Linked DNA regions of Homo sapiens: region 1 is linked to region 2. Evidence: fine-mapped expression QTL. A gene starts in region 2. The other region holds a variant in brackets. All regions are shown on one strand. Distances are between the middles of the regions. Region 1 holds the start of HM13-AS1 (HM13 antisense RNA 1). Region 2 holds the start of ID1 (inhibitor of DNA binding 1).

Evidence for each region.
Region 1: its variant is fine-mapped to the expression of ID1 in whole blood (TOPMed, PIP above 0.99).

What each region holds. Positions count from the first base shown.
Region 1 is chr20:31,564,332-31,573,564 of GRCh38, forward strand. HM13 (histocompatibility minor 13) reads left to right here. Exons shown (of 13, transcript NM_178581.3): 11 at 1,879-1,964; 12 at 3,747-3,893; 13 at 4,789-5,212. The coding sequence ends at 4,888. It overlaps HM13-AS1 (HM13 antisense RNA 1), which reads right to left and starts at 8,932. Exons shown (of 3, transcript NR_046853.2): 1 at 8,811-8,932; 2 at 8,468-8,592; 3 at 3,256-3,617. It overlaps LOC107985416 (a long non-coding RNA gene), which reads left to right and starts at 8,679. Exons shown (of 3, transcript XR_005647051.2): 1 at 8,679-9,107. RefSeq lists enhancers at 1,457-2,332, 2,333-3,208, 2,482-2,621, 8,289-8,830 and silencers at 5,275-5,569, 8,632-9,211. The variant T/G (reference allele first, on the strand shown) is at 4,770.
Region 2 is chr20:31,600,879-31,610,111 of GRCh38, forward strand. It overlaps ID1 (inhibitor of DNA binding 1), which reads left to right and starts at 4,411. Exons shown (of 2, transcript NM_002165.4): 1 at 4,411-4,935; 2 at 5,175-5,632. The coding sequence starts at 4,510. The coding sequence ends at 5,216. It overlaps MIR3193 (microRNA 3193), which reads left to right and starts at 6,308; the gene lies at 6,308-6,362. LOC105372588 (a long non-coding RNA gene) reads right to left here and starts at 4,317. Exons shown (of 2, transcript XR_936669.2): 1 at 4,225-4,317; 2 at 3,813-4,067. RefSeq lists silencers at 1,988-2,282, 6,168-6,462, enhancers at 2,024-2,093, 3,035-3,873, 3,609-3,788, 4,178-4,848, 4,849-5,518 and 1 more and a cis regulatory region at 7,524-8,099.

The DNA.
Region 1 (9,233 bases), 37 kb before region 2:
GTTGGGAGGCAAAAGCAGGTGGATCACTTGAGCTCAGGAGTTCAAGACCAGCCTGGGGAAAATGGTGACAACCAGTCTCTACAAAAAATACAAAAATTAGCCAGGCATGGAGGCGCACACCTGTAGGCCCAGCAACTTGTAGGACTGAGGCGAGAGGATCACTTGAGCCCAGGAGGTCAAGGCTACAGTGAGCCATGTTCATATCACTGCACTTCCGTCTGGGAGACAAAGTGAGACCCTGTCTCAAAAAAAAAAAAATTGCTGAGGAATGCTGTGAGGGAAATTAGAGGGACTTACAGAGCACGTAGCAAGGGACCTGACTCCATGTGAAAGAACTCAAGTGCACCAGCCTGGCCAACATGGTGAAACCGCATCTCTACTGAAAAATACAAATATTAGCCGGGCATGGTGGCGCATGCCTGTAATCCCAGTTACTCAGGAGGCGGAGGTTGCAATGAGCCAAGATCGCACCATTGCACTCCAGTCTGGGAGACAGAGCAAGACTCTATCTCAAAATCACAAAAAAAAAAAAAAAGAAAAGAAAAGAAACTCGGCCAGGCGCGGTGTCTCACGCTTGTAATCCCAGCACTTTGGGAGGCCAAGGCAGGCAGATCACAAGGTCAAGAGATCGAGACCATCCTGGCCAACACGGTGAAACCCTGTCTCTACTAAAAATACAAAAAAATTAGCCGGGCATGGTGGCAGGCACCTGTAGTCCCAGCTACTCCGGAGGCTAAGGCAGAAGAATGGTGTGAACCTGGGAGGCAGAGCTTGCAGTGAGCCAAGATCACACCACTGCACTCCAGCCTGGGTGACAGAGCCAGACTCCATCTCAAAAAAAAAAAAAAAAGAAAGAAACTCTTTGGGCTGGGCGTGGTGCCTCAGGCCTATAATCCCAGCAATTTGGGAGGCCGAGGCAGGTGGATCACCTGAGGTCAGGAGTTCGAGACCACCATGGCGAACGTGGTGAAACCCCATCTCTAGTAAAAATACAAAAATTAGCCAGGCGTGGTGGCAGGCACCTGTAGTCCCAGCTACTCAGGAGGCTGAGGCAGGAGAATCGCTTGAACCCTGGAGGCGGAGGTTGCAGTGAGCCAAGATTGCACCATTGCACTCCAGCCTGGGCAACAAGAGTCAGAGACTCTGTCTCAAAAAAAAAAAAAAAAAAAGATTTGGGTCTCTGAGTCCTGGGCTATTTTCCCTCTCCTTGTGAAGCATTGGTCTTCCTCCTCTGCAAAAGGATAACCATCATGGGATGTGGCAGTGGGCTGACTTCCTGGGAAGGCTAAGCTCAGTGCCTGCACAGTAGATGTTCATGAACAGGGTCTTAGTATAACCGTCCTTTTCTCCAAACCCAGCTTTACCAGGAGTCTCAGCACAGACATGCCAAATTGCTTGGGTGTGAATCCTGGGGGAGCCAGTGACCAGCTAGGTCACCTTAATACAGGCTGCAACAAGTAGTTATTACATAGCAGCTGTGGTGTCATCATCACTATAATAGCATCTCCTGGAGCATTTGCTAAAATGCAGGTGTGAGCCCCAGACCTCAGGAAGCAGAGTCTCTGGGAGTAGGACCAAACCAGGAAGTTGCTTTTTGAACCTGGTGACCTAGGTGATTCAGATGCTGCCAGCCAAACCCCTGGGAACCCTTGAAGCCCTGCCTACTTGAGTTTCTTAGTTTTCTTGCATTCCCTCTCGGGAGGAGCAACCCTTGTCTGGGAGTTAGGAGCCCTGGGTTCAGGCCCAGCCACTGACTTGCTATGGTCCTGGACCAGTCACTGTCCTTCAGTCCAGCCCAGAAGGGGTTTGGGGTGCTGGGCACGGCCCTGAGGCAGTGCCGTGCCCAGCATGGCTTCACCAGCCTGTGTCCTCTCATAGCCTGCCCTCCTATACCTGGTCCCCGCCTGCATCGGTTTTCCTGTCCTGGTGGCGCTGGCCAAGGGAGAAGTGACAGAGATGTTCAGGTAAGGCAGAGTGGGGGGCAGATGTCCTCATGGGCACCAGTGTGCCTGCTGGCAGTCAGTGGAACCTGCTGGGGGTATCTTTACACCTCTCCAGGGGAACATTGTTCCTGCCACCAGCCCCACCCCTTGCCTTTTTCAGCAGTACATGGGTACCTGGCCTGTGGACACCAGTGGGAACCTTACCCTGGGCCAGGAGCCAGGGGAGCGCAAGGCATCAGAGCCCTCTAGGCATCCCCCATCCAAATGTTAGCTGGATCTTAAGAATAGCTGTTGTGGATTTTTCTCTGCCTACTGTCAGAAGTCCTAGGTGACTCTGCCCCCAGGTGACTTCAGGCATGTCTTCCCCTCCCATGGCCTCAGTTTTCACATGTGAGTAATAGAACAGGGGGCGTGTGGGATGCCCTAGTGTGGTAGAAAGTGCCCCGAGTAGAAGGCAGGTGTCAGTCCCTGTTCATTCACCTCTGTGGCTTTAACCCACAGCTCACTGCTTTCTCTATATCTGTATCTCACACAGATACCCCTTCCCCAGGGCCATATCCACACCTACCACACCCTGCACACAGCCCCACCCATACCGCAAGGCCTGCGTGACTCCAACAGGTGTCTGCCCCCAGCACTGCCGACCCTGCCTGCCAGGGACCTAGAAATAGCTGTCAGTTGCGATTAAAGCTGCCTACTCGGGTGCCTTCCGCCCAGTTCCACCTGCCTGGCCTCCAAGCTGTCCCTAGAGCGCTTGCCAGGGCCTCCTGTGCACCTGGCTCCCCGCAGGGGAGCCTGTGACTCACCCCTCCCCCGGACCTGCCTCTGCCCTCCCTGTCCTGTCTAGAATCCCCAGCCCCCCGCCTGCCTGCCCACATTGCCTCGCCCAGCAAAGCTCTGTGGTCTGAGGCAAGTGGGGGCTAGGGGTGAACTTGGGGACAGGTCTCAGGGAGCTTTGGGAGCAGGCATGGCACCCGATCCCTGAGCTTAGCACCCATCCTTCACCCTCCCTCTGCTTCCCATCCAGCCCAGGTTTCCCTGCCCCTCCCCTTGGGGTAACCACCCAATGCTATTGTGCCCTCATCAGGCAAAGCTCTGAATACACAAGGCAGAGGGTGCCCCTGGCCTTTACCTGCTTGGTGCTAAATGCTCTGCCATACAGGTACCCTGCCCCCACTGTTTGCCCTCCACTCCCACCCTGGACATTCTTAGATTGGGGTAAAAAGCAAGTGATCTCTCTCTCTCTCTCTCTCCCTCCTTTCTCCCCATTTCTCTCCCAATTCTCCACCTTTTTACTTTTCCCTTCTATTCTCCTCCTTTTTTTATTGATTTACTTATTTTTATATTGGTACCACATTCACATAGTTAAAAATTCCAAAGCTGTAACAGAGAGAGCACCCTCATGCTCCAGCTACCCCACAGAGGCCAGCAGTGTTACACAGACATTCAGACACCTGTGCACTGATGTGTGTATACTTTTTCTTGCACAGACGGTGGCATTCTTGGAGCATTCTGCACATTGGGTTTCTACGGTATTTCTTAGAGGTGTTTCCACAGCAGCACATACACTTCTAGAGCATGCTTGTTCTTCTGCACAGTGGCCTGATGTGCCTTTGTCTAGGTGCATCTTTCTTTTTTCATTCTCCAAATAATATCAGCTTCTTTCCATAAAATCTGGAAGTGCAAAAATAGGTAAAAACAAGACAGTTCTGCTCTCTGCTCCTTGGAAAGGAAGTCTCTGTCCTCCCTTAGTCTTTCCCTATCCATCTCTTTTTTTCTGTCTCTTCTCTCTCTCTCACACAGCTACGAGTCCTCGGCGGAAATCCTGCCTCATACCCCGAGGCTCACCCACTTCCCCACAGTCTCGGGCTCCCCAGCCAGCCTGGCCGACTCCATGCAGCAGAAGCTAGCTGGCCCTCGCCGCCGGCGCCCGCAGAATCCCAGCGCCATGTAATGCCCAGCGGGTGCCCACCTGCCCGCTTCCCCCTACTGCCCCGGGGCCCAAGGTAGGGCAGACACTGCAGCTCCAGTGCATAGGGCAGGGACCATTGCCAGGAGTAGGCCGCAAGAGCAGCTCCTCCACAACCACCAGGCAGTGGTTGCACCGAGCCATAGGGCTGGGAAGCAGGACAACCCCGAAGCTTCCTGCCCTCACCAGTAATGCGGGGCCCACATCATAGTGGATGGAAATGGCCCTTGTCATGCAGTAGTAGATACTGTTACCATTCAAGGTATATGTATAACCTTAGGCAAGTTACTTTCTTCATCTGTAAGTGGGCACATTCCTGCCTCACGGGGTTTATCTGGTGAGGAAAGATTTGTATTATCTTTGGCATGAACTCAGTTGCTTGAAAAATGAAGCCCATAGAAGAAGCTAAGCCAGGGTGTCTGTCTTCAGAGCAGCACCTTGCCGCTTGCCAGTACAGCAGTGCCCTCACCTCTGGGGCTGAGCTGTTTGATTCATGCTGTGTGCCCTGGGAGGCAGCCTATCTCCATCTCTTGTAGCCTTGTCATGGCCACCCCTTTTTCCACGCTACAGCAGAAGGTTCAGGAAGCTTGAAATCAGCCCACACAAGCCCAGGCCCAACCTCTCTTCCATTGGCTGCTGCCCTTGCTGCCTCCTGGTACCCCCAGGCTCAGAGAAAGCAGAGCAGCCTGCCTGAGGAGGGCATGTGGTAGGGCTGGGGCCAGGCGCTGTTAGGTGCTGGGCAGTGGACACAGGGCTGACGCTCTGCATGTGACCAGGCGCTTTCCTAGGATGGGGGTGGGGGAAGGGGACAACCAAGGTTCTGCTCACCCTCTCCTCTAAATGAATTTTTATTGTTG[T/G]TTTTTTTTTTTTGGTCAGTTATGAGGAGTCAAATCCTAAGGATCCAGCGGCAGTGACAGAATCCAAAGAGGGAACAGAGGCATCAGCATCGAAGGGGCTGGAGAAGAAAGAGAAATGATGCAGCTGGTGCCCGAGCCTCTCAGGGCCAGACCAGACAGATGGGGGCTGGGCCCACACAGGCGTGCACCGGTAGAGGGCACAGGAGGCCAAGGGCAGCTCCAGGACAGGGCAGGGGGCAGCAGGATACCTCCAGCCAGGCCTCTGTGGCCTCTGTTTCCTTCTCCCTTTCTTGGCCCTCCTCTGCTCCTCCCCACACCCTGCAGGCAAAAGAAACCCCCAGCTTCCCCCCTCCCCGGGAGCCAGGTGGGAAAAGTGGGTGTGATTTTTAGATTTTGTATTGTGGACTGATTTTGCCTCACATTAAAAACTCATCCCATGGCCAGGGCGGGCCACTGTGCTCCTGGAAGATTCTCTGTTTAAGCACCCAGTGTCTTGCCCTGGGTTTTCTAGGTCTCACCTGCCCACCCAAAATCTTTTCTGCAAGCCCCTTAAGGGTGCCCACCCCAGTGCCTGGCCAGCCCTGCACCCGTAAAACACCTTTTAGCCAGTAGAGGGGGCCCACGAGCCCTCTCTCACCAGCTAGCACTTTTCTCACCACCTTCCTCGAAATACTTGGGGGCAGCAAGGGTGTTGGCAGATGAGAGTCTCCCACTCACCATGGTGAGAGTGGTGGGGAGTACCCAGGGCTGACCTGACTCACAAGGGAAGCAGTAACTGTAGAACCTGCCAGCCTCCCTGGTCCCTGTGCCCATATGGCTTCGGCTGATGAGGGCTCAGACTCTAGGTTGCCCTGAAGATCAAGGCTTTGTCTCCCATTCTGCCCATTCCTGGGTTTCTTCCCAAAATGACTACTGTGGGGCCAGTCATGGCACAAGGGCCAGGACCTCTAGAGGCTGGGGTGGGGAAGGACTGAGCTAGTGATTCTTAGAGGCCTTCTGGGGCCTAAGAGCTGAAATCTCAGCGCCCGGGTTTCCCTAAAGTTTGCTGAAGACAGCAGCCCCGGCCAGCAGGAGACCGACCGGGCACCACCCCAAACCAGGCAAACGGTGGCCACAACCCTCATCCACCCACCTGGTATGAGGTCACTGAGTGGGGAAACAGACAGGAGCGGGTGGCCACCATACTGACAGACCCGGGGCTCTCCCTTGCCCAAGCTTCAGGTTCAAAGGCTGAAAATAACAGTGGCTTCCAGTTTGGAAGTGGCCAAAGGACAATCATGACCAGAGACTCAGGAGTATGACTGTAATACCCTCACTAGGTATTGACATGCACTAAGCACCTTGATATAGGATTTCACTTCCTTCTGAGTCTTGGGCTGTATGTGCTATTATTCGCTCCGCTGTGCAGATGAGGGAATTGAGGCAGCTTGCCCATGGACATCGATTTGACCTTAGCCAAGCCAAACAATTCCAGGTTCCTAAGGACCGCAGCTCCTCCCCAGACCCCTGGGACCAAGTCACTGGCTGGTGTGCTGGGCATCCCTGAGCCCCAGCCACCCAATTTTACTGGCTCCAGGGTTCTATAGGAAGGAAAAGGGGTAGAAAATTTCAAAAGGCTTCTTCCTTTCAGGGAGGGGGGTTCCCTTTCAGGGGCTTCTGGAATCTCTACCCACTCCAGCCAACTCTGAGGCCATGTGGTCCTGGAACAAGGCCCCTCTGAGGCAGATGGGGCAGGCGGCCCAGGCACATAGCATGGTTGGCTCTGCGGCCCAGGGCGCACAAAGGCCTTATTGAGTCACCACCAGCCCCCGGCAGAGGCTGAGGTGGCAGTGGCGCCGAGCGCCTGCCACCTAATGACTGTCCTGGTCCAGCCAGATGTTCCACAGACCTCCGGAGCAGCGGACTAGGGCCCGCCCGGCCAGCCGGCACCGCAGAGGCCACTGTAATTCCAATTAACCAGCTTCAGCTGAGCAAACAGCGGGCAGTGGTGGCCCAGCCCAGGCGGTAGGCCTGGCCCGCAGAGCCTGCGAGTCTAGACTCCAGATGTGAACCGCCACCATCAGAGTCCCATGGAAAAATGGCACCAGGCCGGGCAAGGATTGGGCCTGCATGCTGGGGAGGGGGTGTGGGTGGTTGGGCAGGGCCCCGAGTGGGCTAGATGCCAGCCTCACCTGGTTTGGGGTGGATTATTAGGAAACTGCTCTAGAACCCAAGTTCTACCCTGCTTTATTAGATTCTGTTTCTGTGCCTCAGTCTCCCATGACTGCGACAAGAGAGAGGGTTCCAAGGGGAAAACCAGCCCTGCTGAGACCCCAGTGTGCACTGACTGTATTTCACGTGACTAGCATTATGCTAGTGCAACTGACCCTTGAACAACACAGGGATTAGGGGCACCAACCCATCATGGTCGAAAATCTGTATAACTTTTCAGTCCCGCAAAACAACTAATAGTCTGCTGTTGACCAGAAGCCTTACCTGATAACATAAACAGTCAAAACATCTTGTATGTTATACGTACTACACTGTCTACCATAGAGTAAGCTAGAGAAAATGTAATTAAGAAAATCCTAAGAGCCAGGCATGGTGGCTCATGCCTGTAATCCCAGCATTTTGGGAGGCCAAGATGGGCAGATCAGGAGGTCAGGAGATCGAGACCATCCTGGCTAACATGGTGAAACCCCCGTTTCTACTAAAAATACAAAAAATTAGCCGGGCATGATGGCAGGCGCCTGTAGTCTCAGCTACTCGGGAGGCTGAGGCAGGAGAATGGCCTGAACCCGGGAGGCAGAGCTTGCAGTAAGCCGAGAGAGGCAGGCGGATCACAAAGTCAGGAGTTCGAGACCAGCCTGGCCAATATGGTGAAACCCCGACTCTACTAAAAATACAAAAATTAGCCTGGCATGGTGGCAGGCGACTGTAGTCCCAGCTACTCAGGAGGCTGAGGTGGGAGAATCACTTGAACCCAAGAGGCGGAGGTTGCAGTGAGCCAAGATTGCACCACCGCACTCCAGCCTGGGGGACAGAGTGAGACTCCGTCTCAAAAAAAAAAAAATTATTCAGTGAAAGTGGATCATCATAAATAAAGATCTTCATCCTGGTCTCTGTGTTGAGGAAGAGGAGGGGGTTGGTCTTGGTGTCTCAGGGGTGGCAGAGGTAGAAAAAAAGTCCACGTTTAAGTGCACCTGCACAATTGAAACCCGTGTTCAAGTTTCAAATGTATCTTAAGATTTACTTAATCGTTGTAACAACACTTTGAGGTACCTACATCATTCTTACGATGGGGAAACTGAGGCAGAGACCGTAAGGGCGGGCCCAGGGGGCATGTGAACCCAGAGTGTCTGGCTTCCAAGACTCGTATTCACCGTGGTGCCGTTTGACATGATCAGGATAATGGATCCCTGGTTCCTTTTGGGGGCAGCATTGGAGAAGGGGGTTTGGCACCGTCAGTCTGACAGCAGGGCTGGCTCCTGCAGTGTGAATGAAGCGGTCTTGTGCTCGACTGTGAAGGGGGGTTAGGACCTGCTTCCCAGGGCGGGTCCAGCTTTCTGAGGGAAAGCCTTCAGAGCCTCCATCAGGCCGGCACCAGGTACCAGTTAAGCACTGGGCAGGGAACAGAAGTGGTCAAACGCCGCTTGCCGCGACTTGAAACTGCTGAATAAATGGATAATGTCAAGCGCTATGGCTTAGGGCAGTAGTACCTCCGGTTCCTACGATCGTGTCTGGGGTCCCTGAGGAGCAAGGCAAGAGTCGGCCATTCAGGAGGTCAGAGTTCAGCTGTTCTTGCACAAGCAGGGAAGCTGAGTCACCCCAAACACGGGCAAGACTAGCGGTGGTATCAAATGGCTATCAGGGGCGGGGCCTCAGGGGCCTGCCCCTGCCTCCCCGCCCTGCGTTTGGATTCCCTCCAGCATTCCGGGCCAGGGCGCGGGAGGCGGAGGCCGAGGAGAGGACGGGAGGAGGCTGCATCCTGCCCTGGTGCGTCAGGAAGGGCCGAGCGAGCGGGAAGGAAAGCACCACCCCCCACCCCCGCCGCGGCCACACCTGGGTTCTCCAGGCGGGCAGGGGGGCCCCCGGGCCGGCGCCTGGCTCCAGCAAGTCTGGGCCGCCTCCCCGCGCCGCCCCGCGGGGGCCGCCAGATGGGCTGCCCGCCCGCCAGCTCAGCGACGCAGGCAGGAAACGCCGGCCGGGCTGCCAGGAACGCGCGCAGGGGAGGGGGCGGGCCCGGCCGGGCCACGCCCGCCGGAGGGGAAGGAGGGGCCAAGCACCGCCCGGCGGGGACTGGTGAGCTCCAAGAGCCTGCGATCCCGGTCCCTGCCTTTACTAGATGGGTTTCCTTGGGTAGGTCGTTTTACTTCTCTGTGCCTCACTTTCCCTACCTGTAAAGCGGGGCTGCCTGTCTCCGCTCTTTTTCCCTTTTCTCTTTTATTTGTGCAGCAGGGTTTCACTCTGTCGCCCAGGCTGAAG
Region 2 (9,233 bases):
AGGCAGGAGAATGTCATGAACCCGGGAGGCGGAGGTTGCAGTGAGCCGAGACCGTGCCATTGCACTCCAGCCTTGGGGACAGAGCGAGACTGTGTCTCAAAAAACAAAAAACAAAAACAAAAAAAGACCGGGCGCGGTGACTCACGCCTGCAAGTGTAGCATTTTTGGGAAGTGGAAAAGGGCGGATAACCTGAGGTCAGGAGTTCGAGACCAGCCTGGCTAATGTGGCGAAATCCCATCTCTACTAAAAATACAAAAATTAGCCAGGTGTGGTGGTGGGCACCTGTAATCCCAGCTACTCGCGAGGCTGAGGCAGGAGAATTGCTTGAATCTGGGAGGTAGAGGTTGCAGTGAGCGGAGATCGTGCCATTGCACTCTAGCCTGGGTGACAGAGCGAGATTCCGTCTCAAAAAAAAAAAAAAGTGGATAGAAGGATATGCATAGGTTTTATACAAATACTATGTCATTTTATTTATTTTATGTATTTATATTTTGAGACAGGGTCTTGCTTTGTCACCCAGGCTGGAATGCCGTGGTGGCATCTTGGCTCACTGCAATCTCCACTTCTTGGGTTCATGAAATTCTCTTGCCTTAGCCTCCCAAGTAGCTGGGATTACAGGTGTGCACCACCACGCCCTGCTAATTTTTCTATTTTTAGTAGAGATGAGGTTTCACCATGTTGGCCAGATTGATCTCGAACTCCTGACCTCAGGTTATCCACCTGGCTTGGCCTTACAAACTGCTGGGATTACAGGCGTGAGCCACTGCGCCTGGCCCTGAATTAATTTCTACAGCATAATTTTCTCTCTTATTTTTATTTTTTTGAATCAGAATCTCACTCTGTCGCCCAGGCTGGAGTGCAGTGGCTTGGTCTCGGCTCTCTGCAACCTCCACCTCCTGGGTTCAAATGATTCTCCTGCCTCAGCCTCCCAGGTACTTGGGACTACAGGCGCCCACCACCACACCTGGCTAATTTTTGTATTTTTAGTAGAGACTGGGTTTTGCTATGTTGGCCAAGCTGGTTTCTCTGGAATTCATTGCAGTAAACAGAATTGCTGGATCAATTAATTCACAGTTGAAGGCCAGGCACTGTGGCTCACGCCTGTAATCCCAGTACTTTGGGAGTCTGAGGTGGAGAGATCACAAGGTCAGGAGTTTGAGACCAGCCTGGCCAACATAGTGAAACCCCGTCTCTACTAAAAAGACAAAAAATTTAGCCTGGTGTGGTGGCGGGCACCTGTAATCCCAGCTACTTGGGAGGCTGAGGCAGAAGAATCGCTTGAACCCAGGAGGCGGAGGTTGCAGTGAACCAAGACTGTGCTATTGCACTCCAGCCTGGGTGACAGTCTGAGACTCTATCTCAAAAAAAAATAAATAAATAGTTGGTGATGGCCAGGCACGGTGGCTCATGCCTGTAATCCCAGCACTTTGGGAGGCCAAGGCGGGCGGATCACCTGAGGTCAGGAGTTTGAGACCACCCTAGGCAACATGGCAAAACCCCGTCTCCACTAAAAATACAAAAATTAGATGGGCGTGGTGGTGGGTGCCTGTAATCCCAGCCTGAGGCAGGAGAATGACTTGAACTCAGGAGGTGGTGGTTGCAGTGAGCTGAGATCGCGCCACTGCACTCCAGTCTGGGCAACAGAGCGAGACTCTGCCTCAAAAATAAACAAAAATAAACACTTGGTGATGAATTAATACTCTAATTTCCTCTGGTTGACTGTTGTTCTTCCAATTATTTGGCAATTCTTTTGAGCAGCAAACTATTCCCTCCCATCATTAATTTAGGATTGCTAAACAAGGCGTAGGGAGTTTAGAGAGTTTTGGTGTGTGTGGTAAGGGGATGAGGAGTCTGGCTAATTAATTGATGATGTCTCTCTCTTTTGAAGCTGGTCTCACTGATTGGTTTGGTTTTCCTGGTTTCCTGATGTGGAGGCAGAAGGCTCCTTTACTTTTCCCTCATCCCCCGAACTTCTGTGGGAAAACGGAACCTGCTGATAACTCAGTGAATTAATTGCTGCGGGGTAGTGCGGTGGAGCGGAGCAGGGAGGGACCATAATATCACCCTCCACTGGTGAGCACAGATTTTTACCCCTGCTAATGTTGTGTGGCTTTGGGTGACTAATCTGAGCTTCGGTTTCCCCACCTGTGGCATGTCCAGGACTCTGCAGTCAGACTGCCTGCTCTCAGCAGGAAGCGGTTGCATTACAACACTGTACCCTCCTTATAATAACACAACTATGGTTATGACTTAGGCGTCGTGTGGAGCCTCAGTTTCCTTTGTATAAAGAAACCAAAGAGCTCCTTTCTTTAGAGTTGTGAAAAAGACTACAGAAGTTGATCAAGCCGGGTGACAGAGTAAGACCCTGTATCATTATTATTTTATTTTGAAACAGAGTCCCACTCTGTCGCCCAGGCTGGAGTGCAGTGGCATAATCTCGGCTCACTACAACCTCCGCCTCCTGGGTTCCAGCGAGTCTCCTGCCTCAGCCTCCTGAGTAGCTGGGGTATTACAGGTGCGCGCCACCACACCTGGCTAATTTTTCATTTTTAGTAGAGACGGGATTTCACCATGTTGGTCAGGCTGGTCTCGAACTCCTGACCTCGTGATCTGCCCACCACGGCCTCCCAAAGTGCTGGGATTACAGGCGTGAGCCACTGCGCCCGGCCCCCTGTATCCTTTTTTTTTTTTTTTTTTTTGAGACGAGTCTCACTCTGTCGCCAGGCTTGAGTGCAGTGGTGCGATCTCGGCTCACTGCAACCTCCGCCTCCCAGGTTCAAGCAATTCTCCTGTCTCAGCCTCCCGAGTAGCTGGGATTACAGGCGAACGCTACCATGCCCGGCTAATTTTTGTATTTTTAGTAGAGATGGGGTTTCACCATATTGGTCAGGCTGGTCTCGAACTCCTGACCTCAGGCAATCCACCCGCCTCGGCCTTCCAAATTGTTGGGATTACAGGCGTGAGCCACCGCGCAGCCCTTCATTTTTTAAAATAAGAAATAAATGAAAAAAGATGATCAAGACAAACTCTTCATACAGTGCCCGCTGTACAAAGTAAGAAATTAATAATGGTCACGTTTGTGATTATTATTTAAACACCAAGCAGATATTAAATATTAGGGCTCAGAGAGGGCATGCGACCCGCCTGAATTCACTCAGCTGCAGAGCTGGAAAGAGAACTCAGGCCTTTTTCCCCACGCTGGAAGGGGTAGCTGGGGCGGAGAGGTGGGGGGAGCGGTGAAGAAACCCCAAGCGGCCCAAGCTGTGGGTCTGGGTTGGGAGACTCGCAGGTGTGGGGCGGGGAGGTAAGGTGACCCTTGCTCAGCGACCGCGCCCGCAAGAAACGCATTCCCAGGCCTCCCGCCCGGGGTCTGCAGGTGACGGGCTGGGGGGAGCACGGGAACTAGCTAGACCAGTTTGTCGTCTCCATGGCGACCGCCCGCGCGGCGCCAGCCTGACAGTCCGTCCGGGTTTTATGAATGGGTGACGTCACAGGCCTGGCGTCTAACGGTCTGAGCCGCTGGTTCAGACGCTGACACAGACCGGCCCGGGAAGGGAGGGGGGAGACTGTAGCTCCGCAGCTGCCGCGCCGTGGGAGGGAGACCCTGCTCTGAGGTCTTTGAGAAGAAAATTTAAAAAGCAGCCAAAAATGGGAAAAAACATTAAAAAATCACGAACTGTTGCAGGTTCAGGAAATTTTTGCAAGGAGCTGCAAATTCAAGGTGGAATCGAATGCAGCCTCACTCCACTGCGCTCTATCTAGTTCACTTCCCAGCCACCCAGCCCCAAACTTACTAGACTTTCCCGAATTAATTGCTCCCACCCGGGAGGGATCTGGGTAGGCCCTCCGGGTCTCAGGAACACGAACAGCAACATTATTTAGGAATTGAGAAAGCCCAGGGGAGCAGATGTAAAGGAGCGCCCGCTTTAAATTTCGGTCCTGATATTTGTAGATCAGGGTCCGAGAAGCATCTTCCAAGAGGGTCCGGAAACCCAGGCTCTCTGGGCTATCCAGAGCCAGCCGCTTCTCCGTTCGGGCCTCAATTTCTCTCATCTGTGAAATGGAGCTGGAGAAGTGAGAAAGTGAATATGGGAAAAACTGATTCCTGAGGTCTTTTCATTATAAGGCAATGCCTGCTTAGCTTCCTTGCCTCCTTCCAGAGGAGCCCAGTGCGGCCCTCGCCTCTACCCGCTGCCCTGCCCGGTGCCCTGCCACCGACCCACCCTTGCTGTTCTGAAACCCGGGTCGTCTTTCCACACTGCGAGCAGGCACTAGACGAGCAGGAGGCTGGACCTAGGAGCGCGGGTCACGCCCCCATGCCGCCCATTGGCTGCTTTTGAACGTTCTGAGCCCGCCCCTCCGGGGGCCGTGGCGTGTTTATAAAAGACAAGCTGTGGCTCCGCACTCTCATTCCACGTTCTTAACTGTTCCATTTTCCGTATCTGCTTCGGGCTTCCACCTCATTTTTTTCGCTTTGCCCATTCTGTTTCAGCCAGTCGCCAAGAATCATGAAAGTCGCCAGTGGCAGCACCGCCACCGCCGCCGCGGGCCCCAGCTGCGCGCTGAAGGCCGGCAAGACAGCGAGCGGTGCGGGCGAGGTGGTGCGCTGTCTGTCTGAGCAGAGCGTGGCCATCTCGCGCTGCGCCGGGGGCGCCGGGGCGCGCCTGCCTGCCCTGCTGGACGAGCAGCAGGTAAACGTGCTGCTCTACGACATGAACGGCTGTTACTCACGCCTCAAGGAGCTGGTGCCCACCCTGCCCCAGAACCGCAAGGTGAGCAAGGTGGAGATTCTCCAGCACGTCATCGACTACATCAGGGACCTTCAGTTGGAGCTGAACTCGGAATCCGAAGTTGGAACCCCCGGGGGCCGAGGGCTGCCGGTCCGGGCTCCGCTCAGCACCCTCAACGGCGAGATCAGCGCCCTGACGGCCGAGGTGAGATCCAGATCCGACCACTAGATCATCCTTATACCGACGGGGAAACGGAGGCCAGAGAGGGCGTGGGCGCTTGCACCACTTCCGTCCCATCCTTGCGGGTACCTGGCTATGCGGGGGTGCCTAAGGAGCCTGGAAAAAGCGCTCCCCCGTCGTGCTTCCTGGGGAAGGGGGCGTTCGCTGCGCTCGGAGCGGCGTCCCTTCCAACCCGCCGGTCTCATTTCTTCTCGTTTTCACAGGCGGCATGCGTTCCTGCGGACGATCGCATCTTGTGTCGCTGAAGCGCCTCCCCCAGGGACCGGCGGACCCCAGCCATCCAGGGGGCAAGAGGAATTACGTGCTCTGTGGGTCTCCCCCAACGCGCCTCGCCGGATCTGAGGGAGAACAAGACCGATCGGCGGCCACTGCGCCCTTAACTGCATCCAGCCTGGGGCTGAGGCTGAGGCACTGGCGAGGAGAGGGCGCTCCTCTCTGCACACCTACTAGTCACCAGAGACTTTAGGGGGTGGGATTCCACTCGTGTGTTTCTATTTTTTGAAAAGCAGACATTTTAAAAAATGGTCACGTTTGGTGCTTCTCAGATTTCTGAGGAAATTGCTTTGTATTGTATATTACAATGATCACCGACTGAAAATATTGTTTTACAATAGTTCTGTGGGGCTGTTTTTTTGTTATTAAACAAATAATTTAGATGGTGGTAAAGTTGTAGTGACTTCTTGGGTTGAGGGGAGGGGCCTGGGCTGGGGGTTGACCCCTGACCCTCTTCACAGCTGGTTCTGGGAGGAGAATTGGAGGGCTACATCTGGATTGTTGCTCTTACCGGCCTGAATGAGTGTTTCCGGTGTCTTTAAAGTCTATTCTTCCCCCACCATCCCTGCCCATTTCCCTGCTCCCCAGTGTTATAAAACTAAATACTCCAGACCTCTGGGGTTTCTCACAGTGATCATTGGGCCATCTAGATCACCTGGGGAGGTTGTTAAAATGCAGATGAACCTGCCAGGGCCCCCTCTGTATTGGGAGTATTGAGCAAGCCATTTAAGTTGGAGAACCTGGCCGCTGGACCACCCACTTCCTTGCCAAGATGTGGATAAAGTGAGACCCAGTGGAAAGGGACTTGCTTAGGGCCATAGCTTGTGAGAGGCAGTGATTCTATCACCCCATTCCCCAGTTGGAGGTGCCTCCCCCAACAGCCTACCTCTGGGTTCCAGCAGGCAGCCCTGGGGCTCCTGGCTCATCCAAGTGGGTGAGCAAGTTGGCAGGGCCAGGCTGGGCACAGCTGCCGAGACACCTGCTCTGGGTCCAGACTCGGCCTCCTCACTCTGGCCTGGCTCTGTCGGCAGTTCAAACAAATCTCCCCCACCAACCCCGGGGCTCCTGCGTAGGATCTGAGGAGTGGACGAGTCTCATTACCCAGCTCCTGAGCAGGAAAAATATGTCATTGGCAAGGGTCTAAGAATCTTCCTGGACATGTATGTGGATTTCTACTCAGGGGAGCATGTATGAGTGTCTACGCCTGTGTATGTAACAGGAGTAAGCTGATCTTCCCCCACTACTCCCACAGTGGGGATGGGCCAACTGTTCACATATAGGCTTGGGGGAGGGGGTGTAAGTAGGAGTATGCTTGGGGGTGTGTGCAGAAGGGCAAATGAGAGCACATGTGTTCTGCAGATAAGTGTGGAACCTCCAGCTGTTTGGGCTTGTGTGTTCTGCCTAAATGCATTGTAGGCATCTCTGCATGGGTCTGGCATGATGGATGGGTTTGTGTGTCTGGGGGCCACAGAACCACACTGTGGGTTTCTGTGTGTATAACTGTTCTATAGATTGGTTGGCATTCCTGGGCCTCTGCGGGTCTGGAGTGAAGGTGGGGACAGCTGTGTTTGGGCAAACCCTTCCTCAAAAGTTCACGTGGCAACTCCCTGGGCTATCGTTAGGTCCTGGGGGCACCAACCCTCAAGGATTGCTGCCAGGTAAACCCCCCTGTATTACATATGGAGAAACTGAGTCCCAGGAATGACAAAGAACTTGTCCCAGACAGGTAAGGGCTATTAATATATTTTGTCAATAAACAATAGAATAAAATCAATAGCCCTTAGCACCAGAAGCCTGGCTCTGCTCAACTGAACCCTTTACAAAAACGATTTCATGGATCCCTGTGGGGCTAAAGGCAAGACTGTGATCCCAGTTTTACAGCAGAAGGAACAAGCTCAGAGAGGGGATGAACAAAAAATCAAATGAAAGATTATGATTTGAGCACTAACATTAAGCCAGGTACACCCCCTCCACAGTTTATGGATTTTATCGAAGAACCCAGTACTTGCAGGCGAATTATGTTCTTTGCTACCTCCTCCCCACCGGCTGCTGTATTACAGTACTAACCTCACGGAATGTAGTACAGAATAAATGAAATAAAGTAAGTGTGTAAAACGTTTAGCACAGTGCTTGGCACAGAATGTTTCATAGTTATAAATTATTATTGTCGCCTGTGAGTCCTTGGAGTGTCCTCGGAGGCACACGTGTGCACGCACGCACTCTCACGTGTGGGCCCCCGCCTGCAAGCCCACCCACGGGGTCTGAGCGGGTTCCCCCTCGCGTACTCCGACATGCAGGGCCTTTTTCCAGGGGAGGAAGGGGCTGCGGCGGGGGCCTGGGCCACCTCCCCCGCCATTCAGGCACACTCTGGATTCCACGTTTCCCTCTGTTCCCCTTTGGCCCAGACCCAGCCCATCTGGAGGCCGGCTCCGCGGCGGCCTGGGAGCGTTTCCATCAGCTGGGCCCGAGGAATGCGGAGCTATTTAACCTGAGCATCCCCAGGTGTACGGAGGCGCCTGGCTGTCTGGGGCCCGCAGCCTTTGGCACAGCCGCGCTAGACAAACAGCGCGCCGCCCCCGCCCTGCCCCTCCGCCCCCAGCTGCAGCCGGGCCTGGGAACCGGCGGGCGCCGGCGGCTTGCATAAGAGGCTCCGGGCCTCGCAGAGGGAGGGGGGACAGAGGCCACCGGTGTGTGTGCATGTAACACACAAAACCCTGCTCCTTTGGAAATCATTAACTCCTTAACCCCTCCTGGACAGGACGAAGCCAGGAGCTGGGGTGGAAGATGCCGAGAAACCCGAGGACCAAGTTTCTTGGGCACTGGACTCTGCCTTTCCGGGGCTGTACTGTTAATTTTATTTAAGAAATACAGAGAGCTTATTGTGTGCTGGGCACCATGCTAAACTCTTTACAATATCAATTCATTTAATCGTCAGAACTTGTTAACGAGGCCAGTGCTATCATCATATGCTCATTTTAATAAGAGCAACCACCACCACTACAACAAGAGTAATAGGCTAACATTTTAGTAGGGAGGCAGGTAGAACACAAGCCCAGAATCAACCTTGATGCTCATCACTTCACCTGTCAGAGCCTCTTCTTTTTTGGAAAACGGGCTTCAGAACCTGGGCTTCAAGGATTAATTGAACCAATGCACCTAAAAAGCATAGCACAGGCTCATGGTAGATACTTAGTGCATATTGCAATAAAGTGTTTTGAGCGGATTGTCTCAACAGCCCTACCAGGTGTGGGCCTACTGGTATATTCACTTTTTTGGTTTTTTTGAGACAGAGTCTCCCTCTATTGCCCAGGCTGGGGTGCGGTGGCACCATCTTGGCTCACTGCAACCTCCACCTCCCAGGTTCAAGTGATCCTCCTGCCTCAGCCTCCCGAGTAGCTGGGATTACAGGCACGTGCCACCATGCCCAGCTAATTTTTGTATTTTTTTTGTAGAAAAGGGTTTTCACCATGTTGGCCAGGCTAGTCTCGAACTCTTGACCTGAAGGGATCTGCCCACCTCAGCTTCCCGAAGAGCTGGGATTACAGATGTAAGCCACCGTGCCCGGCCTGTGTTCACTTTTCAGATGAGAAAACGGAGGCATCAAAGAGGTGAGGTGACCCACCCAAGGCCACATTGCACATTACCTTAGAGGACTTTCCAGAAATCAGACTTGTCTAAATCAGGTTTATGAGGGGCCTCATGTTCCCACAGTATGTCCAGTTTATAAAGCCTTTCATCTTATTTCCAACTGAAATCATACCTGGTCATTATATTTATTTGTTTTAAAAGCATAACTCAGATAAATGCAAGAAATATACACATATCACAATTTTTGCAACCCATATTGGGGAATGTCTATTTTTTTTTTTAAGACAGTTTTCCTCGTCACCCAGGCTGGAGTGCAATGGGGCGATCTCGACTCAACCGCAACCTCCGCTTCCCAGTTTCAAGCAATTCTTCTGCCTCAGCTTCCCAAGAAGCTGGGATTA